7 linked regions of the Homo sapiens genome follow. The protein of the gene in region 4 purifies or fractionates together with the protein of the main gene of each other region. This does not show direct contact. Each region holds a gene or a part of one and is shown on either strand. Other genes may lie near its edges. The genes, in order: DHFR, ANKLE2, STK39, KLK15, MAN2B2, ARFGEF3 and DNAAF5.

The links.
Region 1: the proteins of KLK15 (region 4) and DHFR purify together in Homo sapiens (affinity purification with mass spectrometry; one large-scale study listed by BioGRID and IntAct). This does not show direct contact.
Region 2: the proteins of KLK15 (region 4) and ANKLE2 purify together in Homo sapiens (affinity purification with mass spectrometry; one large-scale study listed by BioGRID and IntAct). This does not show direct contact.
Region 3: the proteins of KLK15 (region 4) and STK39 purify together in Homo sapiens (affinity purification with mass spectrometry; one large-scale study listed by BioGRID and IntAct). This does not show direct contact.
Region 5: the proteins of KLK15 (region 4) and MAN2B2 purify together in Homo sapiens (affinity purification with mass spectrometry; one large-scale study listed by BioGRID and IntAct). This does not show direct contact.
Region 6: the proteins of KLK15 (region 4) and ARFGEF3 purify together in Homo sapiens (affinity purification with mass spectrometry; one large-scale study listed by BioGRID and IntAct). This does not show direct contact.
Region 7: the proteins of KLK15 (region 4) and DNAAF5 purify together in Homo sapiens (affinity purification with mass spectrometry; one large-scale study listed by BioGRID and IntAct). This does not show direct contact.

The regions. Positions count from the first base shown.
Region 1 is NC_000005.10:80,648,132-80,652,613, forward strand, and holds part of DHFR (dihydrofolate reductase), read right to left. Parts: intron 1,364-4,482; coding exon 1,258-1,363; intron 1-1,257.
Region 2 is NC_000012.12:132,724,339-132,728,235, forward strand, and holds the end of ANKLE2 (ankyrin repeat and LEM domain-containing protein 2), read right to left. Parts: intron 3,826-3,897; coding exon 3,694-3,825; intron 3,106-3,693; coding exon 2,904-3,105; 3' UTR 1,165-2,903; downstream 1-1,164. UniProt on the Homo sapiens protein: Involved in mitotic nuclear envelope reassembly by promoting dephosphorylation of BAF/BANF1 during mitotic exit.
Region 3 is NC_000002.12:168,240,852-168,245,333, forward strand, and holds part of STK39 (STE20/SPS1-related proline-alanine-rich protein kinase), read right to left. Parts: intron 1-4,482. UniProt on the Homo sapiens protein: Effector serine/threonine-protein kinase component of the WNK-SPAK/OSR1 kinase cascade, which is involved in various processes, such as ion transport, response to hypertonic stress and blood pressure.
Region 4 is NC_000019.10:50,827,151-50,831,025, reverse strand, and holds part of KLK15 (kallikrein-15 isoform 4 preproprotein), read left to right. Parts: intron 1-461; exon of another isoform or gene 462-496; intron 497-3,210; coding exon 3,211-3,364; intron 3,365-3,864; coding exon 3,865-3,875. UniProt on the Homo sapiens protein: Protease whose physiological substrate is not yet known.
Region 5 is NC_000004.12:6,608,707-6,613,188, reverse strand, and holds part of MAN2B2 (epididymis-specific alpha-mannosidase isoform 1 precursor), read right to left. Parts: intron 4,083-4,482; coding exon 3,891-4,082; intron 3,392-3,890; coding exon 3,139-3,391; intron 2,310-3,138; coding exon 2,199-2,309; intron 2,104-2,198; coding exon 1,911-2,103; intron 1-1,910.
Region 6 is NC_000006.12:138,339,307-138,342,900, reverse strand, and holds part of ARFGEF3 (brefeldin A-inhibited guanine nucleotide-exchange protein 3), read right to left. Parts: 3' UTR 1-3,594. UniProt on the Homo sapiens protein: Participates in the regulation of systemic glucose homeostasis, where it negatively regulates insulin granule biogenesis in pancreatic islet beta cells. Also regulates glucagon granule production in pancreatic alpha cells.
Region 7 is NC_000007.14:753,909-758,390, reverse strand, and holds part of DNAAF5 (dynein axonemal assembly factor 5), read right to left. Parts: intron 3,803-4,482; coding exon 3,570-3,802; intron 1,610-3,569; coding exon 1,397-1,609; intron 1-1,396. UniProt on the Homo sapiens protein: Cytoplasmic protein involved in the delivery of the dynein machinery to the motile cilium.

The sequences.
Region 1 (4,482 bases), on a different chromosome or scaffold from region 4:
CCAATACACATGGGAAAAGAATACTATGACTACTGTTCCCAAGAAAGTAGTGCCCTAGGATACTGCATTCTTTTTGGTGATTATATTATTAGACTAAGAATGATTAACATGCCAGATCCCAGACCTTCCCCTTAGATCCTGATATGGTTTGGCTGTGTCTCCGCCAAAATCTCACCTTGAATTGTAATAATCCCCACATGTCAAGGGTGATACCAGGTGGAGATAAATGAATTATGGGGGGTGGTACCCCCCATGATGTTCTCGTGATAGTTAAGTTCTCATGAGATCTGATGGTTTTATAAGGGGCCTTTCCCCCTTTGCTCGGCACTTCTCCTTCCTGCCACCATGTGAAGAAGGATGCGTTTGCTTCCCCTTCCACCATGATTTTAAATTTCCTGTGGCCTCCCCAGCCATGAGGAACTGTGAGTCAATTAAACCTCTTTCCTGTACAAATTGCCCAGTCTTGGGCAGTTCTTTATAAGAACATGAGAATGGATTAACACAGGTCCAATTCTGGCCACCCCTCAACCTCCCAAGCCATTGGAGTTGACTTCCTGGGCAGTCTTAATATGATTACCCCTCCCACTCTCCAGTCACCAGGGCATATCCAGGCTTCATGAACTACTGACTCCAACCCTGGGTTGGAGGACAGGAAAATTCTTAGCAGAGGCTAACTGGAGATACCCGCTTCTCTCCAGGATCTCTAGAACCATTTCAATACTTTGAAATGTTTTACCTTCAGACACTGGGTAATGAATGTTAAGTACAAAATATTATTGGGTATTGTGGTTAACTAGGAATAACAGAGTAGAAGATTATGACCCATTTCAGCCCATCCTAAAATTCACATTTTATTGCATTTAGGGTTGGGTCCAGAAAGGGGATCATCACTTAATTTTAGCAAGTCCCAAAAAATAGTTGTTTTGACTTTATGTGAAACTACAGGTTATTGATTACACTGTATAATTTATATTTGGGCCTACTGAATGATGGTTCAAGATAACTTGCAAATCTGATACCACAGTGAGCTATTTAATGTTTAATGTAACTTTTCAAGGTGATGAAATCAATTACTCAGGTAGTAGAATAAGTTATTGTCATGTAGTATAAATAACTGCTTATTAATTTTCTATAATCACCTTTGTGATATTAAGCAGCTTCATCAATAGCTCCTTTTATACAATTTCATTTTATCATATACTGATCTCCACTATGAGACATGATTTTCTTGTGGTGAATTTATGTTAAGGTACTTACTTGAGTTCTCTGCTGAGAACTAAATTAATTCTACCCTTTAAAGGTCGATTCTTCTCAGGAATGGAGAACCAGGTCTTCTTACCCATAATCACCAGATTCTGTTTACCTATAAAATCACAAAGAAAGCCTAAGTATATTTTGGGAATATACATATATTTTCATGTATTTATATACAACATGTCCTTGAATAACATCGTTTTCTTCTAACGTTGATGAGAAAAATAATCAATTCCTGGCCAGGGCCACCGTCTGTGTGGAGTCTGCATGCTTTTCCCATGTCTGCATGGGGTTTCTCCAGGTATTCCAGTTTCCTTCCACATCCCAAAGACATGCACATTATTCTTCTTAAATGTATGTATAGCTCATATTTACTTCAGTGTTTTCTATTAGAAGTGTTTTTGGCCTTCATTTAGAAGTTTGGTGATGTTTTTGTGACCAGCAATATGCCCTAGGAACTTAACTCTTGTGTACATCCAGTAGCCTATGGTAAAATTGGTTTTGCTCTACATTGTTTCACTTAAAGTCACAGTTTCCAAGAACTCACAGATGACATTGAGGACTTATCTATGTGCATAGATATGATGGACATCCTGACATTTAGTGGATCTCCTTTAAAAAACTGAACTTAAAAGTCTCTTCACGGGCAGGTCAATTTCACTGGTTGAAAGTAAGAGACAGCTGAACCCTCGTGGAGCCATTCATACAAGTCCCTATTTAAGGAACAAGTGATTATGCTACCTTTGCACGGTTAGGGTACCGCGGCCGTTAAACATATGTCACCGGGCAGGGGTGCCTCTAATACTGATAATGCTAGAGGTGATGTTTTTGGTAAACAGGTGGGGTAAGGTTTGCCGAGTTCCTTTTACTTTTTTTAACCTTTCCTTGTGGGCATGCCTGTGTTGGGTTAACAGTGGGGGTAATAATGGCTTGTTGGTTGGTTGTAGATATTAGGCTGTTAATTGTCAGTTTAATATTTTGGTCTGATGTAGGCTTATGTGGAGGAGAATGCTTTCATGTTACTTATACCAACGTTAGTTCTTCTATAAGGTAATAGATTGGTCCAATTGGGTGCAAGGAGTTCAGTCATATGTTTGGGATTTTTCGGATGATAGGTGTTGAGCTTGAACGCTTTCTTAATTGGTGGCTGCTTTTAGGCCTACTATGGGTATTAAATTTTTTACTCTCTTTACAAGGTTTTTTCCTAGTGTCCAAAGAGCTGTTCCTCTTTGGACTAACAGTTAAATTTACAGGGGGATTTGGAGGGTTCTGTGGGTAAATTTAAAGTTGAACTAAGATTCTATCTTGGACAACCAGCTATCACCAGACTCGGTAGGTTTGTCGCCTCTACCTATGAATCTTCCCACTATTTTGCTACATAGACGGGTATGCTCTTTTAGCTGTTCTTAGGTAGCTCGTCTGGTTTCGGGGGTCTTAGCTTTGGTTCTCTTTGCAAAGTTATTTCTAGTTAATTCATTATGCAGAAGGTACAGGGGTTAGTCCTTGCTATATTATGCTTGGTTATAATTTTTCATCTTTCCCTTGCGGTACTATATCTATTGCGCCGGTTTACAATTTCTATCGCCTATACTTTATTTGAGTAAATGGTTTGGTTAAGGTTGTTTGGTAGTAAGGTGGAATGGGTTTGGGGCTAGGTTTAGCTCAGAGTGGTCAAGTTGAGTTGAAATCTCCTAAGTGTAAGTTGGGTGCTTTATGTTAAGCTACACTCTGGTTCGTCCAAGTGCACTTTCCAGTACACTTACCATGTTACGACTTATCTCCTCTATATAAATGCGCAGGGGTTTTAGTTAAATGTCCTTTGAAGTATACTTGAGGAGGGTGACGGGCGGTGTGTACGCGCTTCAGGGCCCTGTTCAACTACGCACTCTACTCTTAGTTTACTGCTAAATCCACCTTCGACCCTTAAATTTCATAAGGGTTATCGTAGTTTTCTGAAGTAGAAAATGTAGCCCATTTCTTGCCAGCTCATGGGCTACACCTTGACCTAACATCTTTACGTGGGTACTTGCGCTTACTTTGCAGCCTTCGTCAGGGTTTGCTGAAGATGGCGGTATATAGGCTGAGCAAGAGGTGGTGAGGTTGATCGGGGTTTATCGATTACAGAACAGGCTCCTCTAGAGGGATATGAAGCACCGCCAGGTCCTTTGAGTTTTAAGCTGTGGCTCGTAGTGTTCTGGCGAGCAGTTTTGTTAATTTAACTGTTGAAGTTTAGGGCTAAGCATAGTGGGGTATCTAATCCCAGTTTGGGTCTTAGCTATTGTGTGTTCAGATGCGTTAAAGCCACTTTCGTAGTTTATTTTGTATCAACTGGAGTTTTTTACAACTCAGGTGAATTTTAGCTTTATTGAGGGGAATTGATCTAAAACACTCTTTACGCCGGTTTCTATTGACTTGGGTTAATCGTGTGACCGCGGTGGCTGGCACGAACTTGACGAACCCTAGGGTTAGTATAGCTTAGTTAAACTTTCGTTTATTGCTAAAGGTTTATCACTGCTGTCTCCCGTGGGGGTGTGGCTAGGCTAAGCGTTTTGAGCTGCGTTGCTGCGTGCTTGATACTTGTTCCTTTTGATCGTGGTGATTTAGAGGGTGACTCACCGGGGCAGGGATGCTTGCATGTGTAATCTTACTAAGAGCTAATAGGCTACGACCAAACCTATTTGTTTATGGGGTGGTATGAGCCTGTCGAAACATTTTCAGTGTATTGCTTTGAGGAAGTAAGCTACATAAACCGTATGGGGTGTCTTTGGGGTTTGGTTGGTTCGGGGTATGGGGCTAGCAGCGGTGTATATGTTGAGTAAGGTGGGCAGGGAGTTGCATTGATGGGGTTAGTAGAATGTGAGTTGAGGGAGGATGATGTGTTAGTTGAGGGGTGACTGTTAAAAATGCATACCGCCAAAAGATGAAATTTGAAATCTGGTTAGGCTGATGTTAGGGCTCTTTGTTTTTGGGGTTTGGCAGAGATCTCCTTTAAAAAACTGAACTTAAAAGTCTTACCAAAATTCATACTTATCACTCATTACCTAAATCTAACTATTTTTCCCTTTGGCATTATCCAATTTATATCCAATATTTAGTTTTAATCATTTGCAATTGTGTATGACATAGTAAAGATTCTGGGGAGGCCAAGATGGGCAGATCACGAGGTCAGGAGATCGAGACCATCCTGGCTAACACGGTGAAACCCCGTCTCTACTAAAAATACAAAAA
Region 2 (3,897 bases), on a different chromosome or scaffold from region 4:
TCTCGAGCTCCTGGCCTCAAGTGATCCGCCCACCTCGGCATCCCAAAGCACATGAGCCACTGTGCCTGGTAGACTTCCCTTCTAAAATACCTGCTGTTCAAAGTGGTTCTTCCTTAAATGGCCTTTTCCAGTCTTCTGCATGTGGGACGGACGTAGATTAGCAAAGTGAGGATGGCTCCCGGTTTGGCTGGTAGCTGGTGGGGGTCTAATTTCTGAATGCTGGACTCAGGGCAGGTATGGCGGGGGAGAAGGCAGGGAGGGGCAGGCAGGAGACTGGGGAGTGGGGAGCTGACCCATACCAGGGCAGCCCCCAGGGATCTTCAGTGTGCATGTTGTGAACGCCTGCGTGGAGGGAGCCGCATGAGGGGAAGGCTGAGGGTGTCTGGACTGGGTGAGTTACAGGGGCCCAGCGACGTCAACGATGGAAACCGTCCCCTGGTTTGGGACAGACTGAAGACTTCTCACATGTTAGTAACGATAGCCTCTGTCTGGCCAAAGTGAAAACTGCACACCAGAAGCCTCAATGAGACTGGTGGGAAAGGCAATGCCACCAGATGGCGGCCAGCTGCCAGGGGTCGCCATGCCGACGTTTATCCCAAAGCCTTTTCTAAGGAGGGAGCACGGGCGGGAATCTGCAGCTGGAGCAGTCACAGGGTTTCCAACCACGACAAACACGCCTGCACCCCGCACGCACAGCCGGGCCCCAATGAGGGTTTCCATCAGCCCTTCCCTGGGAAAACTCTGCAGGCTTCTGGAAACATCCACACGGCTCTGGAGGACCTGGCTGTGGTCCCTGCCATGGCGCCGCTGGCACTCCCACGGCTGGTACGCAGCACCATGGCTGCTTTTACCCAGAAACGAGCAGCAGACTCACCGGGCGCCTCCCTCACAGCTGCCACCACGCTGGAGAAGGGCACTTTCCAACCAAAGCCACCACAGCAACTGTTAATGTCACCAAGGTTTCCCACTGCCAAGAGCAACGGTAAAATCTGTGCTCTTTTAACGGATGCCAGAAAATCTTTCACAACTGAGTCAAGAAAGGGGCTTAAAAACAGCGAGCGAATCTGAGGGCACCCAGGTTGATGGCCGTCCAACCAAAACAGTGCCGTGCGCCTGGGCACAAGTGAGGGATCCTTCCGAAAGCTTGCAATTATTACCACGCGGTTTTGAAGTAATTCATTTCATTAAGTGTTTTGTGAAGGACATAACCCCCCGGGACACACGAGAATGCCTCCGTTGGGACTGGAATCGCTGCCCACAAACAAACGGAGAAACAGTCAAAGGTGGCCTAAGACCTGGGAAATCAGGAGCAGTGGTCCACATACAAAATCAGGGCCAAAACGTTTTACTTTCCATTTGAATTTACAACCATATACAGACAATATGGTAAGATTTTAGAGAAAACAGATCATCACTACGAATATCCATATTCTGATTTCTTTTGAGAACCAAGGTGCCTTTTAAAATGCGGCTTTTTAGAATAGCATGTGTTGTTTCTGTCTGGGATCTAGATCTTGTCTGCTACAAAACAAATGAACACACCCTGTGTAACAAAATCGAATTTTAACATTTAAATCTTGATTCCAATATTCCTGACCTATCTCTTGTCATATGAAAGAAAGAAGCCTTTTTTTAAAACAAAGTTTCAATTCAGAATTTTTACAAACAAAAACAATCCTGCGTCTACTTAATATCCCTGTATATCCTCAAAAAGCAAGTTCAGGAAATTTAAAAATGATTTATAAAAGGCACTGAAGTTAGCAAAAGCATTGGTGGGTTTTCATTTTGGATTAAACACTGGAAATGTTCACAGAGAAACAACTGTGTGAGCAGTTGCCCGTAACACCCAGGAAGAAACCGACCTCCAGGCAGCACCTCCTGAACACCTCAGCGGCTCCTCACACATTCCAACCACAGACCTTCATTCAAGTCAAGGTGAAGGCTACAGTCAGCACGGCAAGAAACCAAGATGGGACTCAAACCTCTAAATGCAACACTCTGCATACAGGAGATCCCAACTGAAATGAGTTCCAAAATAACGGATACCTTTATCGTATAATCATTTATGCTCAACAAAGCCTCAGGATAAATTTGAAAACAGAACAATGTATAGACTGTATTACTGCTGCACTGGCTCCTGAATGAAGCAGGCGGTGAAGGCTCACGTGCTGAGGAAACAGGGAACACCTTGGCGCCGCTGCTGAGCTCTGTGTTGCTCCTGGTATCACTCCCACGGGCTGCAAGACTTCCCAAGAGAAAAGCTACTTTCATCTTCTGATCAGTAATTTAAATATTCCGAACAACCCAAATCACAATGGTTGCTGCAAGTCTGAGGCGCGCTCCTGGCTCCCTGATCCCTGCCGTCCACCTCCCTCTGTCTGAACCATGAGACCCACGGGCGAACCAACAGGCACTCTGCCACCATCAGATGCCACCCCCCAACCCAGGAAAAGACAGGGCGGCAAATAGTTCATCTTGGTGAGTGCAGGTTATCAAAGGGACATCGGTGCTCACGCCTCCGCCAAGCCCCTCCTCATCCACAGCGTCTGTCGGATGAGGTGAGTACAGGGTAAGTACAGGGCTGCCTGCCTGCAACTGCCTCAGCGCCCTTTCCTCTGCTATATTTCAGACCTAGAAATTGCCACCTAAAAAGTCTACCATTACCACATGGATATTTTCCAGAAAATTGGTAACTGAGTTTGCTTTCATTAACTTCTAACTTCTTCCAAAATATCAGAAATCTAAGTGTTATATAGAACATTTAAATCTTCTAAAATTCTCACACCCTCAAAGTGAGGAGTAATAATTTAATCAGAATATATTCCTTTTTGACAGTTTAGCAATAAACATATGACCCTTCCTTCTTTAAAAATGAAGAACAAACCGAGAGCCCAGCGCCAAGCCTACAGGGCGGCAAGCTCAGCCAGGCGCGCCATCCTGCGGAGCTGGCTCCCGTGCACGGGGCTGTAGCGCCCAGGACTGCCCAGGCCTGGCTTTGCGGGGTTGCTTCCAGCCACGCTGTTTCTCCCCGGACTGTAGCTGTGAGGGCCACTGAGATCTGGCAGCTGAGACTTGAACCTTCCTTTCACCGCGGGACTGGGCCAACTGCGGAAAGCAAGAAAGAACTGTTAGCAGACGGGCACAGGCCCGGAGATGAACAGCAAAAGTCGGAGAATAATGGCCCCAGACTCAGGCACATGCGCCCGGGCGGAGGAGAGGCACTGGTGAACCCTGGCACCGCGGGCACACACGCCCGGGTGGAAGAGACGCACTGCTGAACCCTGGCACCGCGGGCACACGCGCCCGGGCGGAGGAGACACACTGCTGAACCCTGGCACCGTGGGCACATGCGTCTGGGTGGAGGAGAGGCACTGCTGAACCCTGGCACCGCGGGCACTGGGAGAGTCAAGCTCATGGGGGTTTCCCGGAGAATCCTGTGTGATCTGAGTAGAAACCCTGCTGCTTCCACCCTTCTAGCCCTCAGCTTGTCAGGAGCTGACCCGTTCAGCTTTTCCACCCAACCAGAGCTCTGTCCTGTGTGCAGAGAGCCACAACACCCAAATCCACAGCCTGGCTGACGGGCCTGCCAGCGTTGGGAAAAGCCACTGATAGGTTCGCATGAAGTGGAACTGGACCCTGCAGAAGTTTCCAAAAGCTGCCCTGCGGGTGACAGGCTGTCCGGGCCCCACATACCTCTGTCTGTCCGAGGGTGAGTAGCACAGGACAGCACTCTTCCATCTGTGCACGGCCGGGAACTGATGGGGGTCGACGTCTGCACATTCAAGAGCGGCCAAAACATCCTGATCGAGTTTTGATGGCTCCTCTCTAGAAAGCACAATAAAAGAAGCAAAAACATCTTTGGTAAAAACATAAAGACTTCTAAAATACCACTACTTT
Region 3 (4,482 bases), on a different chromosome or scaffold from region 4:
GCATGGCATGGAAGCTCAAGCAAATGCCTTTCCAAAAGGAGAATGAAAGATGGCACCTAACCCTGCAGAGAGCAGAGAAAAGGACTGCAGTGTCCACTGGCTCTGGCCACAGAAGAGTCACAGTGATTTCAGAGAGTAACTTGGGTTTCTTAGGGAAAGGGCAGAAGCCAGACTGCAGTGGGCTGAGAGGGAATGGGAGGTTCCTTCCAACAATTTAGCAGTGAAAGGAAGAAACGAGATAACCGAGTAGCCAGAGGAGAAAGAAGTAGGGAGAGTGTTTTGTTTTGTTCTCTTTTGTCATTTAAACATAAGAGACAGGCTTGAGAATATTTATAAACTGAGGGAAAAGCAAAGAGGGAAAGAAGGAGACAGGGAAGCAATGGTGATGACTTTATCTGAAAATGAAGGCCTCTGTCCTCGCACTGGCTGGGACACACAGGGAGCGTTTCTTTTAGTCAGCAGCATTTCCTGCCAGCATGGCAGCCTCCGGGCAAACTCAGAGGTGGAGGAAAAGTGCAGTCCTAGCAGGTTGTTCTCGGAGCCCTCTCATAATGGGCTGCTCCTCTTCAGCAACCTTCCCGCAGGATGCTCTCATCACTTGTCAGAGGGCCATTTGGCACCTAAACCCCTGAGCTGTCCAAATTGCCAGGAGCTCCACAGGTCTCTTCAGTTTCCTCCCACAGCAGTGGAGGTGCAAGGGGAAGCCAGATCCCCAGGGGCCTCTCCCCTTGTAAGCCCCTTCCAGCAGCCCAGCACAAGAGTGGGAATAGGGAACAACCTCTCTTTCCCACTTCCTCCCTGCTAGAAACATAGCACAGAAATCTTCAAGCCACTCCAGAATCCTGCCAAAGATAGGACTGTGTTCTCTCCTGATAACTTGCATCTGATTAGCAAATGAAGTCTATAGAAGTTATGGCTAAGACTAATTGAAAGCATGCTGTGTGCCAGGCACGATTCTCAGTGCTTTACATTCTCTCATTCCTCACAACCCTATTTTTATCATCCCTATGTTACCAATGAGGAAACTGAGTGCAGACACATCTAAGTCATTTGCTCAAGGTCGCAGCGTCAGTGACCGCCATTGCAGGACATGAAACAGGCCAGGCTGTCAGACTCCAGAGCCGGCACTGCTGCAACTTATTTTCAAACACCATCACAAAATGTACTATACAATAAACCATAAAAGTCAGGGAAGAATTCATAATATCACTAGTTAAAAATCAAATGCATAAATAAAGGATTGCAGTCACTTTACCACAGTTTCAAGAGAGATCTTGAGATCTCTCCCCCCAGCCCCATGACAGCACATTTAAAAGAGTATTTATCTTGTAAATATAATTAATGCTACTGAATTGCACACTTTAAGAACGGTTAAAATGGTACAATTTTTGTTGTGTATATTTTACCACAATAAAAATAATACAAAAGAGGCCGGGCACAGTGACTCACGCTGTAATCCCAGCAACTTGGGAGGCTGAGGCAGGCGGGTTACTTCAGACCAGGAGTTTGTGACCAGCCTGGCCAACATGGTGAAACCCTGTTTCTATCAAAAAATACAAAAATTAGCCAGGCCTGTAATACTAGCTACTCGGGAGGCTGAGGCAGGAGAACTGCTTGGACCTAGGAGGCAGAGGCTGCAGTGAACTGAGATGGCGCCACTGCAATCTAGCCCAGGCAACAGAGCAAGACTCTTACAAAAAAAAAAAAAAATATATATATATATATATATATATATATATATATATAAAGAGGCCAGGCACAGTGGCTCACGCCTGTAATCCCAACACATTGGGAAGCCAAGGCCGGAGCATCGCTGAGCGGAGGAGTTCAAGAGCAGCTTGGGCAACATAGTGAGACCCCCATTTCTTAAAAATAAAAAAAGAAAAAAAAAATTAGGCAGGCATGATGGTTTGCACCTATAGACCCAGCTACTCAGGAGGCTGATGTGGGAAGATCACTTGAGCCCAAGAGTTCGAGGCTGCAGTGAGGTATGATTGCACCACTGCACTCTAGCCTGGGTGACAGAGTGAGACCCTTTATCAAAAAAAAAAAAATACAAAATACAAAAGAACATTTCTATATACATTTTTCTATTTATTAAAAAAGAAAGTGAAATGAAATGAAAATCAAAGCCCTGTCTTGAGACAAAGCATTTCAGACATCATTTAGTATTTTAAAAACAACAACAAACAAACTAATCAAGATCAAAGAACCCACTGCAGCAGCAAGGCAGCCTGGTATAAAGGTCTGGGAGATCAGAACACACTCAGTGCTCCGGCTCCCTTACCCTAGCGCCAGCGAAGGTACCACTGTCCTCAAACTGCCTCTAGGATATCTATAAAAACCAATTCTAACCCCCAAACCATAGAAATCCACAGAAACTCTGAGAGCACAGAGCAAAGTGGGAATGCCCAGGGCTATTTACAATCTCATTTTACAAGAGGCTGTTGCTCCTTAAAGACCTGGCCATATGTGCTATTACCTGGACCTGAGTAAAACGCACCTGAATGGATAAACAATGCCTCACAGGAGAGAAATAAAGCATTCAAAGGAACCCTCTGTCAAACCATGTCCAGGATTCTAGAACTCAAATTCTTCGTGTTGACTAAGATGGCAATTTGTTACTTTTAGGTCATTCTAAATGACCACCCGGGACAAAAGTGAAGCAATGCTGAGAAATCTAGTATAAAACTACATAAAGAAAGGTGCATCCTGCAAAAACCCTAAGAAAATCAAACAAACTCCTGCTGAGGCAGGAGTCTAGGGTTTCTCAGAAGAAATTCAGCAAAGATAACAACATTGCTGGAATCACCTAATTCAAATACAGAAATTAGTACTTCAATGACTACAATTCTTTGAATGAGAAGTTCATTGAGGCTGCTCCATTCCATTACGGATGGCCAAGTAAACACTTATATGATTCACTTTCATTCCCTGTTTAGCAAATCTAGGTAATATTATTAACACCCCCAACAAATAAACTAAGTTTTCAACTGGCATAGCTTTAAGTGCCCCTTATACTTCTAAAGGTAGGGGTACCTACTTTTGGGGGCTCAACTCACCCCCAAATTCCTTCTTTAGAGAGGTAAGGAACAAAGATTAACAAGGCTGAAGAGTATAAACAGGTCGGAAAGCCTCCAAAAAGACAGAAATATTTGAAATCTACTAAGACAAGGATATCAATGTCTGGAAGAAGGAATTTAATAATTTCCAACATTTTTAACCCCTCTGTAAATATAAAGCTCCCTCCCATCGATTTTACATCATTTCCAGGTCATGAATAAACTTATGAACCAGAATACTCCTAAGAGCATTACAATTTCTCCACTGACGTTTTAAAACACAAGAACAACAATACAATAAAGAGAAAACTTTATTTTTAGGTTTGCAAAATCCTGTGTTTATTTTTCTAAAACTGAAGTCAAACAACTGAACCTGCTTTGTTTGGATTTTAGTAAACTTATTCTCTCTTAATCCTGGGGGACCAAACTCTGCCCAGAAGGAAATGAAGAAAAAGTCCTCCGTGCCCGTGCCATGCTGGAAAGTTAAAACACGGTGCCTCCTTTGGTTTTCTGTTCAGGCACATCTGAGCCTCCTGCTGCTGGTCACGGTTCACACTGCTGGAGTCATATCATATGACACCTGCCGTATGGCGGGTAGAAGCAAAGGCTGTCAACTGGCATTCATGTTGAAACTGGTTCAGTGTTTGAACTGCTAACTTCTGCGTGTAATGTTTAAGCAAAAGTGCTTAACCACAAGTTCAGTCTTAATCTCTCAACTAGCATTAAACCCTAAATGGAAACAGGTTTGTAATTCCTTATAAACATTAAGCCCTTGCGAAAAACCTATTCCAGCAATTTGATTTTTCAATAACAGGGCCTCCACACAGGCCAACTCTTTCTCTTTTAGTTGGGAAAATATGAGATAAACTTTAAATGTAGAAAAGCCCTTCCCACAATGCAAATGCGCAAAAGTCAGGGTAGAATAAGCAGGTGTTTTTGTTCTCAAATTCCTCAGGTAAATTTCTTTTTTTCCACTAAACTGACCAACCATAATTAACACTGCTGGGACTGCAAACAGAAAGAAGTCCTGCCATTAATCCCACTCAACTTAAACTAAGATTTTATTAGTTCACAAAAAAATACTGTTTTCAAAAGGCAACGTTTGTATTTTAACCCTAATAATTGACCAAGTAGGTATATAAATTGATTATAACTTCTCCCAATCCTATGGACTCTATGGAGAATTATGTGGCAGATACCATTATTCAACTTTTATGGCCCACCTCTTCCTGTCAGAGTTCACAGCTGGTTAGTGAAGGCAACAGTGGAAATAATTAAGCACCTTACAAACTCAGACTTAAAACCCAGCTCAACTACGACCTCTACTAAGAAATACTCTGCTTCCTTCTCTTTCCTGGCAGTCACTCCCTCCTTCGGGCTCTCCCAGTACTTACTCATCACATCCTATAGGATCCTTTCC
Region 4 (3,875 bases):
AGAGGCCAACAGCACAGACAGACTCCAGCTTGAGTCCCACACCTGCCACTCCCTGTCTCTTACAGGGTCTTTGAGGGGATTAAATGTGGTTGTGTGTGAGGCAGAAGCATAAGCCTGGCCCAGGTAGTGCCCCTTCAGGTGTGCAAGCCAGGCACGGTGCTTAGAGCTTACATACAACGTCTATGTGTGGTGGGCACCACCGACCTCATTTGACAAGGGAAGGGGCTGTGGCTCAGAGGGACGGCCACAACATCAAGGTCACCTTGGGTGTCAGGCAAACTCCAGATTGAACTCAGCTGCCACACACCAAGAAATTAATTGTAACCTGATGCCTCTCTTCTGGAGAAATTGGGGGGTGGACTTTCATTAACGTTCTGCCACAAATGACCCTCACTCCTGGGGGCCCCTGAGACCCCCACGCCTCCAGCCTCCCCTCCGGCTCTCTCTGTGCACTCACCTACCTGCCTCGCGCCTGCCTGCTGCGCCCAGCTGGGGCCTCCACCTTCCTCTGGCTTGGACTGGCCAGGTGCAGCCTCGGTGCCCAGCTGTTCAGCCCGTACCCTCCGCCCTTCGGAGGACGACCTCACCCTTCCTTTGTTAAGCCCCTTGTCCACCACATCCGCATTCCCCTGGTCTCACGGGGGCCTTTGGCCCAGTTCCTGACTGTGATGGGGAGAGTGTGGGCATTTGGTCTGGCTGTGCAAATCCTGCCCCTGTGTGGGTGGGAGTGTGCATGGCTTCAACCTTCAGGGGATGCATCCACATTGCCCAGTGGAGAGGGGTCCTGGTCCTGTGACCTTGAATGTCTCTAATCATGTCCTTAAGCATAATGCCATTCTGTGTGTGTGTGTGTGTGTGTGTGTGTACATGCACGTGTGCAGTGGGTATACAAGGCCCTGTATGTTCACATCCTCTCCACATGCATGAGCCAGATCCCCATATGTGAAACCCAATCAGTGACTCCACAGATCTGGCTTGGGGGCTGATCTAGAGATGGATAAATATGTCCTGCCCTGGCTGCCTCTGGCTTCAGCTGCATGTCTTTGACCTTGAATGCCCAGCCCCGTGTCTGGGTGCTGCCCCAGACAGCAAGTCCACATCTGAGTGTTGGCCTTCTGGGTTGGTGTCTGCAGCTCTAACTCTACAAAATGTCTTGTGGGTGAATCACGGTTTTAACCTTGACTTTTTTTTGTTTGTTTGGTTTTTTTTGAGACGGAGTCTCGCTCTGCCGCCCAAGCTGGAGTTCAGTGGTGCAACCTCAGCTCACTGCAACCTCCGCCTCCCAGGTTCAAGCAATTCTGTCTCTGCCTCCCGAGTAGCTAGAATTACAGGCACGCACCACCACGCCCAGCTGATTTTTGTATTTTTATTTATTTATTTATTTATTTTTTAGTAGAGACGGGATTTCACGATGTTGGCCAGGCTGGTCTCAAACTCCTGACCTCAGGTGATCCACCCACCTCGGCCTTGGCCTCCCAAAGTGCTGGGATTACAGGCGTGAGCCACCACACCTGGCCAACCTTGACTATTTATTATAGGTAATTCTGTGCAGATGTCTGACTTATGTTGGCCATCTCCAGGATGGACCTGAACTTTCACACGTATGTCCCTGTGACTAAATCCAGGTGTCATTTGCAAAAAACAACTAATATTATTAAGTAGCTACCAGGGCTAGGTATCACTCACCATACATACACACATGCACACACACACATACACATTCCTACCTCATCCTTACAACAATCTTCATTTTACAGATGAGGAAACAGAGGCACAGACAGGTCGAATAACTTACTCAAAGTTTCACAGCTAGTACATTCGAACCCAGGCTTAAGGACCCATCTTTGTCCAGACCCTGTATGCAAGTGTCTGTGACACTGGATGCCAAGACTCACACTAGAGATGTTGAATTTAGGTCTGAACAATATCCAATTCTGTGTGTGTGTTTGTGTGTGCATGTGTGTGTGTGTATGTATTCATGTCTTAACCATCCATATTCATATACACATATGAACATCTGTGCTGTGATTCTTTTTTTTTTTTTTTTTTTTTTTTTGAGATGGAGTTTCACTCTTGTCACCCAGGCTGGAGTGCAATGGAGCAACCTCCGCTCACTGCAATCTCCGCCTCCCGGGTTCAAGCGATTTTCCTGCCTCAGCCTCCAGAGTAGCTGGGATTACAGGCACCCGCCACCATGCCCAGCTAATTTTTTGTATTTTTGTTAGAGACAGGGTTTCCCCATATTGGCCAGGCTGGTCTCGAACTCCTGACCTCAGGTGATCCACCCGCCTCGGCCTCCCAAAGTGCTGGGATTACAGGCATGAGCCACCGTGCCCAGCCTGTGCTGTGATTCTTGAAGCTGCAACCCATGTGCATGCAAGTGAATTTCAGCTTCCAGTCCTGTCCATAGCTGTACCTAAGTGTGGAAGCTGGATGTGCATGTATGCATGTCCATGACCTTGTATAGCCACATCTGGGACTCATACTGCACACTGAATTTGGCTGACATGTCCAGACTCTGGGGCCAAGGCTGGGTCACACATACTGAGTGGCCACATGCGTTTGACGTCTGTGACAATTTGGTGACCGTGAATGACTGGTTTCAAGTGACCACCTGTCTGAACCTGTATCCAGTGCCCCTGTCTCCACCCCCAACCACAGAGGACTTCTTGCCCTCTGGTCTGTTCCCCTTCCTCTCTCTCCCAGAGTCTTATAGCAAATGGGGTGGGGGCTAGAGTTCTGGAGAAAACAGGCAGCGGTTGTAAATAAACAACAGGGCAGGCGGAGCATGGTGGCTCACACCTGTAATCCCAGCACTTTGGGAGGCTGAGGCGGGCAGAGCATTTGAAGTCAGAAGTTTGAGACTACCCTGGCTAACATGGTGAGACCTCGTCTCTACTAAAAATACAAAAATTAGCCAGGTGTGGTGGCGGGCACCTCAGCTACTCGGGAGGCTGAGGCAGGAGGATCACTTGAACCCAGGAGGCGGAAGTTGCAGTGAGCTGAGATCATGCCACTGCACTCCAGCCTGGGCAAAAGAGTGAGACTCCGTCTCAAAAACAACAACAACAACAAACAAAAACAGGGCAGGGTGTCTTGAGAAGTTAGGGGAAAGGCATAGGCATATAGTAGTTAGGGCAGGGTGCAAGGAAGGTGTAGGAGGCAATGTAAACGTCCCTGTCCTCAGGCATCCTCTACCCCTTCTCTTAGCAGCCCAGGATGGTGACAAGTTGCTGGAAGGTGACGAGTGTGCACCCCACTCCCAGCCATGGCAAGTGGCTCTCTACGAGCGTGGACGCTTTAACTGTGGCGCTTCCCTCATCTCCCCACACTGGGTGCTGTCTGCGGCCCACTGCCAAAGCCGGTATGAAGGCAGGGGCTCAGGGTCCTGAGGGAGCCTGGTTCGGGGGGAAGAGCTCCTAGATTTGGGGGAAGACGGAGGCAGACGCCAGAACTCCTGGGTTCTGAAAGACGAGGAGGCCGGATGTCAAGCCCCTGGGTTAGGAAGGAGTGTGTGTTTCAAAGCCTTCGATCTCTGAAGGAGGAAGGAGAAGACTAGTTCCAGCTTTTGAGCCTCAGTTCTAGGGATGTGAGAATCCTGGATTCGGGGACAGACCAGGAGGGGGCTGGGAGTAGTTGGAGGGGATCGAGTTCTAGGAGTGTGCCTGACTTCAGACTCGTTGGTCCTTGAGGAGCAGGGGCTGGAACCATTGGCTTCAGGGTCTTGGGAAAAGGTAATGGGATGTCGAGATTTCTAAAGGGTCGGGAGACCTCGGGTTGCCCACTCTTTGATCTTTCTGTCCTCTACTTGCGGGTAACCACTGGCCCGCACTCCACTGGCGGGAAAACCACTCGCCCGCACAGCTTCATGAGAG
Region 5 (4,482 bases), on a different chromosome or scaffold from region 4:
CTGGAGCTACCATCTTCTTACAATACCCCAGGCCATGCTGATTGGTCCAGGCATGGGCCACCTGACCCCAGTAGGACCAATCAGAATCTTTCCCTAGGACTTTTGCACTTGGAACTGGAAAGTCCAAGTCTTAGGTCCTTTTGAGTGGGGAAGACAGAGCTGCTCTTTGAGAGCAGCCCCAGAGCTGTTCAGAGTCACATCCCAGGTGGGAGGTGAAGGAAAGTCTGCAGACAGAGAGAAGTGCAGGTGAGAGACGAACAAGGACAGCCTCACGAGGGCTCCAGGCCCTGAGGCCCAATTACACCCTGCCCTTCCCTTGGTTATGTGGGCCTCACCATACACTCTCCCTGGGGGCTCAGCTAGTTCAAGTTGGGTTTCCGTTACTTGCAACCAACAGAGACCAGAGTGAGGCCAGGTGGGATGGAGCTGACAACAGCCATGGGGCTTTCTCAGACATGGCCTCATCTCCCTTTGCAGGAAAAGCCCCAGCTACACAGAAGGAACCACTGACTGGTCTGGGAGCAGAACCTGACCCTGCTAGGCCAATCAGATTTCCTCTTCTGGGAATCTGAAGCAAGGGAACCAGAGGTGGCTCAATGGCCGTCCTGGGAGACATGGCTGTGAGCCTCTGCTCCTGATATGCCTAGAGCTGCCCTGCCCCATGCCTGTCTGGACCTTGTATCCAGCTCCTCCTTAGATTCCATGAGCTTCTCCAGGCTCTGCCCAAATAGCTGCCCCTTCAGGCTCTGTTACTTCCAAAGAACCTTAATTGACACCCCCTGGACCTGATCCCTGACCTCCTCCCAGCTGTGGTCTCACACTCCTCTACACCCACGAAACACCAGGCCCTCTATGGCATGGCTCCTTCTCCACCCTGAATCCTGGCTCTATACGAGCATGCCTCCCCTGTCCAACAGCCCAGGAAAACTCTCCTGGGTCCGGGCTGCTCTTCTGCATCTCCAGTGTATGGCACAGGCACACTGCAAGTGCTCAGTATATGCTTGTTGCATGGGTGAGTGACAGCCTGCCTGCTGGCTACTGCCCTGGGTTCTGGCTCTAAAACCAAAGCAGGGAGAACCTTAAAAGCACATGCTAATCAAAACCTCCATAGGTGAGTAGAAAAAGAAAAGAGTTTAAGGATTAGTGAGAATGGCAGCAAATTGTATCTAGGTCTTGCAGCTCCAAAAGACCATCTTTAAATGTAATCATTGTTTAATGTTTCTCATGTTCTGCTACTTTATAGAGACACAGAACTACATGGTTGTTGATCTGATCTACAGAAGCTCAGTGGAGGTACAGAATAAGTCCTTTAGGTTAGACTATAGATTAGAAAGACCCCCACCTGGTGACAGCACACCTAGATTCAGACCCAACTTGTCTTTTATTTTTACTTTTGAGACAGAGTCTCGCTTTGCCACCCAGGCTGGGGTGCAACGGTGCAATCTCAGCTCCCTGCAACCTCTGCCTCCCGGGTTCAAGCGATTCTCCTGCCTCAGTCTCCCGTGTAGCTGGCATTACAGGATTACAGGCATGCGCCACCATGCCCAGCTAACAAACCAGTCTTTTAAATGCTAAGCCTCCAGACCTAAAGTGACATGGTGACATAATGTCATATTAAGAAAGGAAAAGATACATCAGAGAAGAAAATGGAGAAGATACAGGGAAGAGGCATATGGTGAAATGGGTGAGTCCCAGCTCTGTACCTCCTAGTTGTATGACCTTAAGTGAGCCACTGTTTGCCCTCAGTTTGCCCATCTGTTAAATGAGGGGCTTGGGCTAGAGGTCCCTGAGGTCGCTTCCTGCCCAAAAGCTGCCCAGAGTCATGAGGGCACAGGCCCCTCCCAAGGCCCGCCCTGGCCTGGCTGGTGCTGAGGCAGTGATGATGTTACTCTGAAAGGGTGCCCCTTTACCAGCGAGGTCTCCGAACAGCACCACGGGCCTGTGCTGCAGCGCCAGTGCGCTCCTCTGGCGCAGGGCAGTGGTGAGGGACCAGGATCCCAGCAGAAGCCAGAGCACTGGGTGGACGACTGAGGTGTCGTTCAGCGTGAGGTTGTAGCCCAGGTCCCAGTCGAAGTTGTTCCACAGCCGCCGGTGGAGCATGACCTGCGGGAAGGCATTGTCCGAGAGGCCCGGCTTGCACCTGGGCATGCCTGTAGGGGGCCGCGAGGGGCTGCTGTAGGACAGACCGTGCCTCCTACCTCCACCTGCCCATTCCCTTGGCTGGAGATGCCATGTGCCCGCTCCGACAGCAACACAAGCCTGCTTTTGCCATCCTCCATGAAGGCCGACTGAACCATGGGGTAGTAATTCTGCAGACAGAAACATCGCCAGGTGGGCGATTGGGGCAAAGGGCAAGGTAGGTCAGGCATCACCCTCTGGCCACCCCAGCTGGTGCTCCCCATAGGCACAGCAGCAGCATGGGGCTGGGACCCTGACTTTGGAGACCAACAGACTGGGGTTCAGACACCAGCTCTGTGGCTTCCTAGCATACAGCTCAGCTGACATGGGTGCAGGCCCTGGCCAAGCCCTGGCCACGCATCATCTCATGGATCCTCAGAATGACCCTTTGATGAAGGAGCCATTTTACAGGAGAGGAAACCGAGGCACAAGCCAAGGCACATACTATTCTTGTCTGTGGTAGCACCAGAATTCAGACACCAGTCTGACTCACAGCCTGCACGCTCAAGCCCTGAACGGGCAGATACACAGGCTTTAAAAGAATTCTCTCTGGAGGCCGGGCGCGGTGGCTCACACCTGTAATCCCAGCACTTTGGGAGGCTGAGGCGGGTGGATCATCTGAGGTCAGGCGTTCAAGACCAGCCTGGCCATCATTGTGAAACCCCATCTCTACTAAAAATATAAAAATTAGCTGGGCATGGTGGCAGGCGGCTGTAATCCCAGCTACTCGGGAGGCTGAGGCAGGAGAATCGCTTGAACCTGGGAGGCAGAGGTTGCAGTGAGCCAAGATCGCTCCATTGCGCCCCAGCCTGGGTGACAGAGTGAGACTCCATCTTAAAAAAAAGGAAAAAAACATTCTCACTGGAGGCCTCTACTGGCCTCTACTGCTGCAATTTGATGCTTAATGGGTCCAGGAAAGGCGCCATTGGGAGCGTGCCTTGTGGGCATTGCAGGACATACCCGGGCGATGCTGTTGTTCACATAGGAAACGTAGGGCCTCCGCTGCATCTGGTAGCCGTTGTTGTCTGAGTAGATGACCTGCTGGCTGTTTAGGTTGGTGCTGGTCCTCAGGACAGCCTCACGGTTCAGCTCCAGGGGGCCGGCTTGGTACTCCTGCTCTATCCGGTGGCAGAGCAGCTCCCCGTCATGGCCCTGCGGCACATGGGTGAGCCGGGAGCGGATTGCATACGTGTAATTCTGTGCTGTCATGTTCCTGGAGGAGAAGGGAGCATCAGTAAGTGAAGCTCCAGGAACCTTCTAGATGCTTCCTTTTTGCTTCCCTTCCTTCATGTGGGCAGGGTGGGCAGGGCAGGGTACGCCGAAAGGCAGGGAGCCTTCTTGGGCCATGTGGACAATAGCACCACCCAGGACCCCGAGCGGCTGGGAGCAGCCTGGTTCCCCGACACCGCAGGGCTGCCATGCCGGGCCTGCCTTACGTCTGCTCTGATCATGGAAGAACAGGTGCTCTGTGGGCCCCAGGGTCTGTGGGTCTCTCTCCCAGCTCTGAACTTAGCTCCCAACCAACGTGACACAGCACACGCAAACGCAGCCAGCATGCAGACACCAGAGCAATTCATTTCTTCATCAGACCACGTGTCAACCACGGCCCGGAAGCTGGGGTTCAGAGCAAAGACAGACCCTCATTCACTGAGCTGCCTGCACGCGTGCGCTGACTGTGTGCCGGGCTGTGGGGGTCACCCCAGGGGAAGCACCTGTAGAAGTACTGCCGGATCTCAGTCACAAGCTGTCCCGCCACAATCTCCATTTCCACAGCTTCCCACGCAGGCACCGCGGCCTTGCCCGGTGTGAACAGGTAGTTATCGGAAATGGGGCCCTGTTTCACATCCCCGTTGACGTGGTACTCCAGGAATTCCTGGGTCACGCGCACCGTTCGGTTACTCTGTCTGCAGAGGCAGGAGAGAGAAGATGTCATTCTCATCCTGCACAAGGTCTTACAGACACCGGCTGGCAAGCCTCTCTCTCCAGATGCCATCTGAGTGGCCTGCGTAGCACTCACGAGGCCATGTGACTCAGCTCATCTAGAAGCCCTGAGACCCCACCCACAGCCAGTGTGGCCTTAGACTCCATGCTGTCCCAGAATGGGTCACAAACGAGGAGACGGACAGAGCCTGCAGACAGGAACCGTGAGCCGTCAGCAGAGGGCACCCCCAAGAGATGGAACTGGCTCACCCAGGCTGTGGTCTGCAAGCGAAACCAGTGCAGGAACGGGCTTTTGTCATGCTGACTCTGAGCTGTCCAGCAGGACACCCATGTGTACAGACCCCATGTCATGGGCCAGAGCCT
Region 6 (3,594 bases), on a different chromosome or scaffold from region 4:
CGTGAAGCCTTTGGGTAGACTCTTTACAGATATATATGAAATTAAAATGTTAATTTACGCCAGAAAATTAAATGAAAGATGAAGGTACAACAAGTAGTCTCATCTCATCTCAAATGGCTAATATTTTGGTGGCCAATGAAAGATGTAAAACAACTGGCAAGCAAACAACTATTCAAAAATCTGTAAGCCAGGAGCCAAGGCTGTAAAGGAGCTGACATGGAAACATCTCATTAAAACGACATGGATGGAAGAAATTCAAACACTACATACTTAAATTTAAAATCACCTTCAGTACAAGTCAAAGGGTCAACATGATACAAATGATCATCCATAGAATCAATGTTTCTAAATACAAAGACAAGAAGCTTAGATTTATCTCACTGTTCCATAGAACTTATACATTCATTGTCTTCTAGCTTGTAAAAACCAATTGTTGGTATAATAAAACTGGAAACTGGGAAGATTGAGCAAGACTGCTGTATAGAATCCAATCCCAAGTCATCTGCCCAAGGGTAGATTCAGTTTTTCTCTAGCGTTTGATAAGTCAGGCTGATCTTAAAGGTAGAAGTTGGAAATTTTTTCAAGGCAGTGGTTCTCAAAGCATAGTTCCCAAAACAGCAGTATTGGCCTCACCTATAAACTTGTTAGAAATACAAATTTCCTGATTTACTTAACTGGGAACTCTGACCATGAGCCCAGCAATCTGTGTCTTATTTTAAAAAAAGGCCCTCCAGGTGATGCTGATGTGTACTAAAGTTTGAGAACCACTGTTCTAAAGACAGAAGATACTAGACAACCACTGGTTAAACCTTCAGGATAGGAATTAACAGTACGAACAGTTGTTGGTGGTTGAAAAGGGTGGAAGGACCATAATTAGATGGGATTCACCAGCAGTGGAGTGCTGTTTTGTCACTAAAGTGGTCAGCCACTCTCTCCTCCCTGGTACCCCTTTGTAGTATTGTACAAAGATACAGAGAAAAGGTTCTGTATGGTGCTAGTGGTGTGGTAGTGGTTTCTCTTCAATGATGGAGTGGTACCACAATTTATAAAGAAACCAATGATCTCAGGAGATATTTTTGGTCTGTCTTCCCTGAAATAAGAATTGTGTTTTGGAAATCTAAAGGGTGTTCTGTTCCAAAATCTTAAGTTATTAGTTATTTCCACATCAAATAGCAAACACTACAATACAGCCAGGGAAAGAGGATCTTCCAAACAAACAAAAAAGGTATGTTTTCTAGATTGCTCCACTACTAAATGAGAACTTTTTTTTTTGAGGCATAATTATAAATCAAGTTCTTGATCAATTTTACAAATCTTTCCCAGTGACAAGCTCATATTTCCAATAAAAAGTGCTCTTTTGCTTTCCTAAGGCCACACTAAATCTCCCTGGGGTCACCTAAGTGGTGCCCAAGCATATTGAAGTTTTGTCATCTGCTTACTGCAAGACTCTGGATTTTCCTTCTGCCTGTTACCTTGTCTGTAAAACAAGTGGAAATGTGTAGATGTTATGGCACATGGTTACTATGGATGTCGACCTGATGCCCTTAGCACCTGGCTCTTCAAGAAATCCTGTCCAACCAGCTGCTTCCTCTTCAGAGAATGTACATTTTGAAAAATGGTTATCCATTATTTTGCATATTCCCAAACTTTGTGCTACTAATTTAGTACCATGTATTTCCCAGAGAAGCAAGTAAAGAGGCACTGTTGGCTACAGGGCACTTTATTCTGAGTTGATTAAATGATATTTGAAAAAGGTTTACAAATTGTGCATGCCGTTCCAGACACACACTGCCATGTTCTTCTGTGTTAATAGCTGGCCATGAATAGTATTATTCCATCATTTCCACCTAATTCAGTGAGTTTTCTAAAGTAACACTGAATGTCTGCTTGAAGACTAAAGTTTAGATTTTGGTTTTATTTTCAAACACTTGAAATGTGTTACATGTGATTTTTTTATGTATAAACATGATTCATTTTCTTTTTTCAACTTTATTTTTAAAAACCTCCATAACATCCCAGACAGATCTGAGATGTCAAATAGTCTCATTTTCATGGCCTCGTTCCTTGAAACTTTTTTTCATACTAGAGTGCTTACTCTATGGACTTAGAGCATGTTGTCAGAGAGAGAGTATGGCCCTTGAATTCAGAAACACCTCTTTTGCAACCAACTTTGCCTTTTACTTGTTATCTTGGGCAAATTTCTTAACCTCTCTGGGTCTGTGTTCCCCTCTGAAAAAATGAGGAACACAACACTTGTCTCACAAGGTTGTTGTGAGGACTACGTGTGATAATACAGGTAAGGGTTTGCAATCACAGTGACATTCACTACTCGCCTCCTCCCTGCTATTTGTAACCTCTTGCTATTACTATCAAAGGTCTTCATTCTGTTTGGCTTGATGGGACTGATACTAATGGATTTTCCTTTCTGAGAAAACTTTCCTGTATAAGCAGTATTGTGATGAATCTGGCAAAGTCAAGGGTATCTATTATATAACTGCATTACCGTCTCACAGCGAAGGCTACTTGACTCTCAACTCACTCTGTATAAGCCTCATTTTAAAACAACAAGGACAAAAAGCCTAATGATCATTGCACAAATATGTTTCAATTTCAAGGTACTTCTGAATTATATTAACATTTTTGTCATGTTTGATTTAAAAATTTTAGTTTTATTTACTTGAGACGAAGTCTCACTTTGTCACCCATGCTGCAGAACAATCTTGGCTGACTGCAATCCCCACCTCCCAGGTTCAAGCAATTCTCCTGCCTCAGCTTCCCGAGTAGCTGGGATTACAGGCAGCTGCCACCATGCCCGGCTAATTTTGTATTTTTAGTAGAGACGGGGTTTCACCACGTTGGCCAGGTTGGTCTCGAACTCCTGACCTCAAGAGATCCACCCACCTTAGCCTCCCAAAGTGCTTGAGATTACAGGAATGAGCCATCACGCCTGATTTAAAGTATTTTAATGCGAGCTGTTAAGTATGTTAGCATCTGCCTGGGTTCTTATCGGTCAGTCATTACATAGACCCCAAATCATAAAGGTGTTCTAGTTTTATATCTATGGGGAAGGCTGGAAAATTACCACAAGGGGAGAGAGAGAAGGTGGTGTAAAAAGGCAGCCTAACTAACTATTTTTAAAAGCAGATCAGGAGATACAGGAGCTAGGTGAGATGCTGTGGACAGTGCATGAGGTTCAATTGTGAAAACCGATGTCCTCATTAATGACAGAGAGAACTCTGTCCCTCCATATACTTGGCTGGGCCATCATCAGTCCAGGGTCTCTTATACTTGGAGTTTTCCAGATGTTTGTTTCATGAAGCACACTTTACCAAAATTTAGGAAAAGAAGAGAAAGATCTCAACTTTAAGGTAATATACTTTTGGCTATAAATACAGGCAACTAAAAACAATGTATAAACTCTCATTCTGCTTAGGTCTGTAAATACATGCTAATAACTGTTCGTAACTTTAAAAGGCTGCCTTGAATTTTGTCTTACTGTTGCTGCAAAAGAGACTGTGAGGAGAGAAACACCTGACACTTTCAGAGACTGGGAGGGAGGGAAACAAAGTTGGGGGAGTGGGCAGCTGAGTCACA
Region 7 (4,482 bases), on a different chromosome or scaffold from region 4:
TGGGGAGCCAAATGCACAACTGTGGGATGACACAATTCCGTTTTCCTGTAACCAACATGGAGATGTGAAAACTACACTTTCTTTGCTATAAAGTTTGTGAGATAAGGATTTAGGCACCTGTGCACATTTTCAAGTTATGCCCTTCTAGGAAAAAATGCTTCTGGCTTGCAAATCTGTATACAGAAATCAAAGGCATCCTCATAACCCCTCGTGGGTGAAGGAAAGTGGAGAACTGACACACATTCGATGATGTGTTAAAAACGGGTTTTGGGAAAAGCTGAAGCATGGCTGAAATGCCATGAGCACGCGGCCCGGGCCCCTCCCCCGCTCCCTTCCTTACCCCAGCTCCGTTTCCTTCCCTCTATGTATTCCAGGAACTGCTTACAGGTTTCTTAAAACAGTTTACAAAAATGACTGTCAACAGCCCCACCTCTCGTTCTGAGGACGGAGAGGGAGCCTGACACAGGACAGGCCGGGCTGAGAGCACAGTGGCAAGTCCCCGTGCCCCAGGCCAGCTTTGGGGCCATAGAAGCCGCCGGAAACGATCGAGCCGGAGCAAGTGCCTCCAGGGGTGAGCTGAGGCCCGCCCTGCATGGCACGGCCGCCTGGTGGGGGCAGCCCTGTGTCCCAGAAATATCTGGGGTGCTGAGTCCAACACACACACTGACAGGGACCACTCACCTTCAAATGAAAGCAAAGCCATCACCTCTTCTTCCATGGAATACAACTATGGATTATTCCAAACAATTGAGCCCAACTACCCAGGCTGTTCCAGCTTCTGAGCTCAAGGATTTGCTGCTCAATTTAAAATTAAACAAATGTCTCTGGCAAATCCTCAGCTGGGCTGTGAGAAGCACAGATCGGAACGCCAGGCAGGGCTGATGGGGAACAGGCTGTCAGTGCCCCCTGAGGACGTGCGATCTGTGCAGGTACCCTGGGGACTGGATGGGATGGTGGACGTGCGACCACGCTCCTCAGGGGTGGGATGACGTGGACCCCACATCTACCCCCAGCAGCATGGGCCAGAGGGTCCCGGCCATGGACGCCTCCTGAGTCATCAAACACGTGAACTGTGGTGTGTGGCCAAGAAAGGGGCAGCAACGAATGTAAACGTGAGCGGCCGCCTGCAGCTGGGGCTGGGGCTGGGGCTGGAGCTCTGCACAGCCCAGGACGAGGCCCCGGAACAAGGGCTATCAGCGAGGGCACTCCGGTTACTGCAGGTGTTTCCGATGGCCCGGCCTGGCGGCACGGGGCGGACCCACAGACACGTCGCTGGGTGCTTCCGACAGCCCAGCCTGGCGGCACAGGGCAACCCACAGACATGTCATTACGATGGCTGACGGCCGGGCAGGGGAGGCTCCTCCTCTCCACTCCCGCATCTCCCAAGTGCTCTTACGTTTTCAGATGCCTGGCAGATGTGGGCCTGTGCCAGCTCTGTGGCGATGGCTGCCAGGTGCGGCTGGAGGGCTTCTCGGGGGCAACCCCGCATGGCGGAGGCCAGCACCAGGAGGCCGGAGGCAGAGGGCGTCTTCTTCAGCGTCGATAAGATCAGCTTCAGAAACACCTCAGGGCTGACAAACGTCCCGACGAGCTCTGCGGATCTGGTACACTGCGAGAAAGAAACATGAGAAAACTCAGAGCCAAACCCGAGGGTCTCAGCCGGGCTCCTGCTCTCGGCGCCGTGGCCTCCCAGACACAGCCGTGCACCAGACAGAGCCCCGTGTTAGGCAGAGTGAGTCCTTGGCACATGCTCAGAGCCCTCAGGAAAGGTACAAGGGTCCGGGTGTGGTCTCAGAACGTCCCTGAGGCCAGCGAGCCGGACACGCCTCCCAGGCAGTGAAGTCTGGCCCAAAGGATGCTGTGTCCCAGCTGTGGGGTTCACCACACACCCCTCATCGGACACCAGTGACCCAACCTTCCCATCACTAAGCTGATCAATACACACCAGCCCCTCTGTACCGTGGAAGCCCACAGTGGATCACACACTCACCAGCCCCTCTGCACCGTGGGATTCCACAGTGGACACCACACACCAGCCCCTCTGCACCGTGGGATTCCACAGCGGATCACACACACACCAGCCCCTCTGCACTGTGGGATTCCACAGCGGATCACACACACACCAGCCCCTCTGCACCATGGGATTCCACAGTGGACACCACACACCAGCCCCTCTGCACCATGGGATTCCACAGCGGATCACACACACACCAGCCCCTCTGCACCGTGGGATTCCACAGCGGATCACACACACACCAGCCCCTCTGCACCATGGGATTCCACAGTGGATCACACACACACCAGCCCCTCTGCACCGTGGGATTCCACAGCGGATCACACATACACCAGCCCCTCTGCACCGTGGGATTTCACACCGGATCACACACACCAGCCCCTCTGCACTGTGGGATTCCACAGTGGATCACACACACACCAGCCCCTCTGCACCGTGGGATTCCACAGCGGATCCCACACACGTCTCTCGTCCTCTCAGCCTCACCCCCGTGTCTCTTGCTCTCCTGTAGGTTCCACAGAGAACTACAGACAATTTTAAATTCACGGTAGTTTTTGAAAAGCAGAAACATGACATGTAAATAACATGGAACCTGGAACATTTACTTTAAATCAGTCACAATGATTTAGATTTTTTTGTTTTATCTGAGACAGCGTCTCATTCCGTCGCCCAGGCTGGAGAGTAGTGGCGCAATCATAGCTCACTGAGGCCTCAAACTCCCGGGCTCAAGCGATCCTCCCACCTCAGCCTCCCGGGAGCTGGAACCACAGGTGCACGCCACTACGCTGGGCTAGTAACAGTGACCTGGACCACTAGAAGTAAAAGCTGCTGGCCAGGCTACCTTGCAATGGAATTTAAGGTTCAAGATGAGGATATTTTCAACTGAAATCTCAAGTCAAAGCTTTAGTTGTTCTCCTGAGCACTAGGAAGCATCCTTGTGAGGTGGGTGTGAAGTCCTCATGGTGGTGACTGTCAGCGCAGGGCGTGGCCCGGCCTAGTGAGGAGGAGAGGCCTGAGCATGGGACTCCCTCGTGCGTACCCAGTGGTGACGAGGCGATAACCAGCAGCCGAGTGTGGACAGGGAGTGAGAAAGAGGACTGCACCAGGGACACCACTCGCAGGACACCCGAAGCTGTGCCATCATCCCCCGTCTGGGTGCTCCCACAGCCCCTGCGAGGCCTGGAAGGGCCCTCAGGACAGTCCAGATGTCAATGCTGAACGCTGGGCATCTCGGTCCTGTGTCAGCAGCCCGGGCCCTGTCTGTCTGGTGCACGGCACGTCTACACAACACGTCTACACAACATGCACCTGGCACTGCACCCCCGAGTGTGCTTGAAAATGAGCATGAAGGGTTCACCCTCAACACGCTGTTACCTACGGGCACAGAAAGGAGATCAGTTGTTCCCAGGGGCTGGGTGTGGGGAGGGCCTGCGGCCCGGGGGTGAGGGGAACGCTGTCTTGGCTACAGTACAGCCTCGGGCCCCGCACACCACAGAGGCGGGATCTTAAGCTCGAGTTACAGCTCCGCGACCACGACTGGAATACGGCCACTTACACTTTGGACCACGGCTGCCTCCTCGTCGGTGCAGGCCTGGAACAGGGTCCGGAGGACGACCTCCAGGTGCTGCGTGGCGTGGTCCTCGGCATGCAGCAGCAGCACTGGGAGCAGCTGTGCCGACTTCACTCGGGTCCCCACCACCCAGTCGGTGATGTCGTGGCACAGGGCAGGGAGGATCTTGGAGAGGTTCCTGAAGACGAGCTCCCGGCAGCCCAGCACAGGGCGGCGCTCTGGAACGAAAAAGGGAAAGAAGAATGAGAAATTCACAAGCAAAACCTCAACAACTCAAGTTACCGCACATCACATTTAAGGGACACCTGTGAGTTTCAACCTCACCATTTCAAAACAAGTCTTGGGGTGGACGCAAAGCTGACAAATGCCCCGTCGTTCAGAACATTCACAGAGGCGGTGCACGGCTGCAGTCCTAGCCCTGTGGAGGCCAAGGCAGGTGGATCACTAGAGCCCAGGAAGTCAAGACCAGCCTGGGCAACATGGCAAAGACCCCATCTCTATAAAAAACAGGAAGATTAGCCAGGTGCCGTGGTGCATGCCTGTGGTCCCAGCTACGCAGGAGTCTGAGGTGGGAGGATTGCGCCACAGCACTCCAGCCTGGGTGACAGAGCGAGACCCTGTCTCAAAAAACAAACATTTAGAGCCACACAGAGATGCAAACAACACACTTGCCACACGTGCTGACGTGTATGATCAGAGAGACACGCCTGCGAAGCCGTCCCCCTATGATCAGAGAGACACACGCCTGCGAAGCCATCGCCATATGATGAGAGACACGCCTGCGAAGCCGTCCCCCTATGATCAGAGAGACACACGCCTGCGAAGCCATCGCCATATGATGAGAGAGACACGCCTGCGAAGCCGTCCCCATATGATCAGAGAGACACACGCCTGCGAA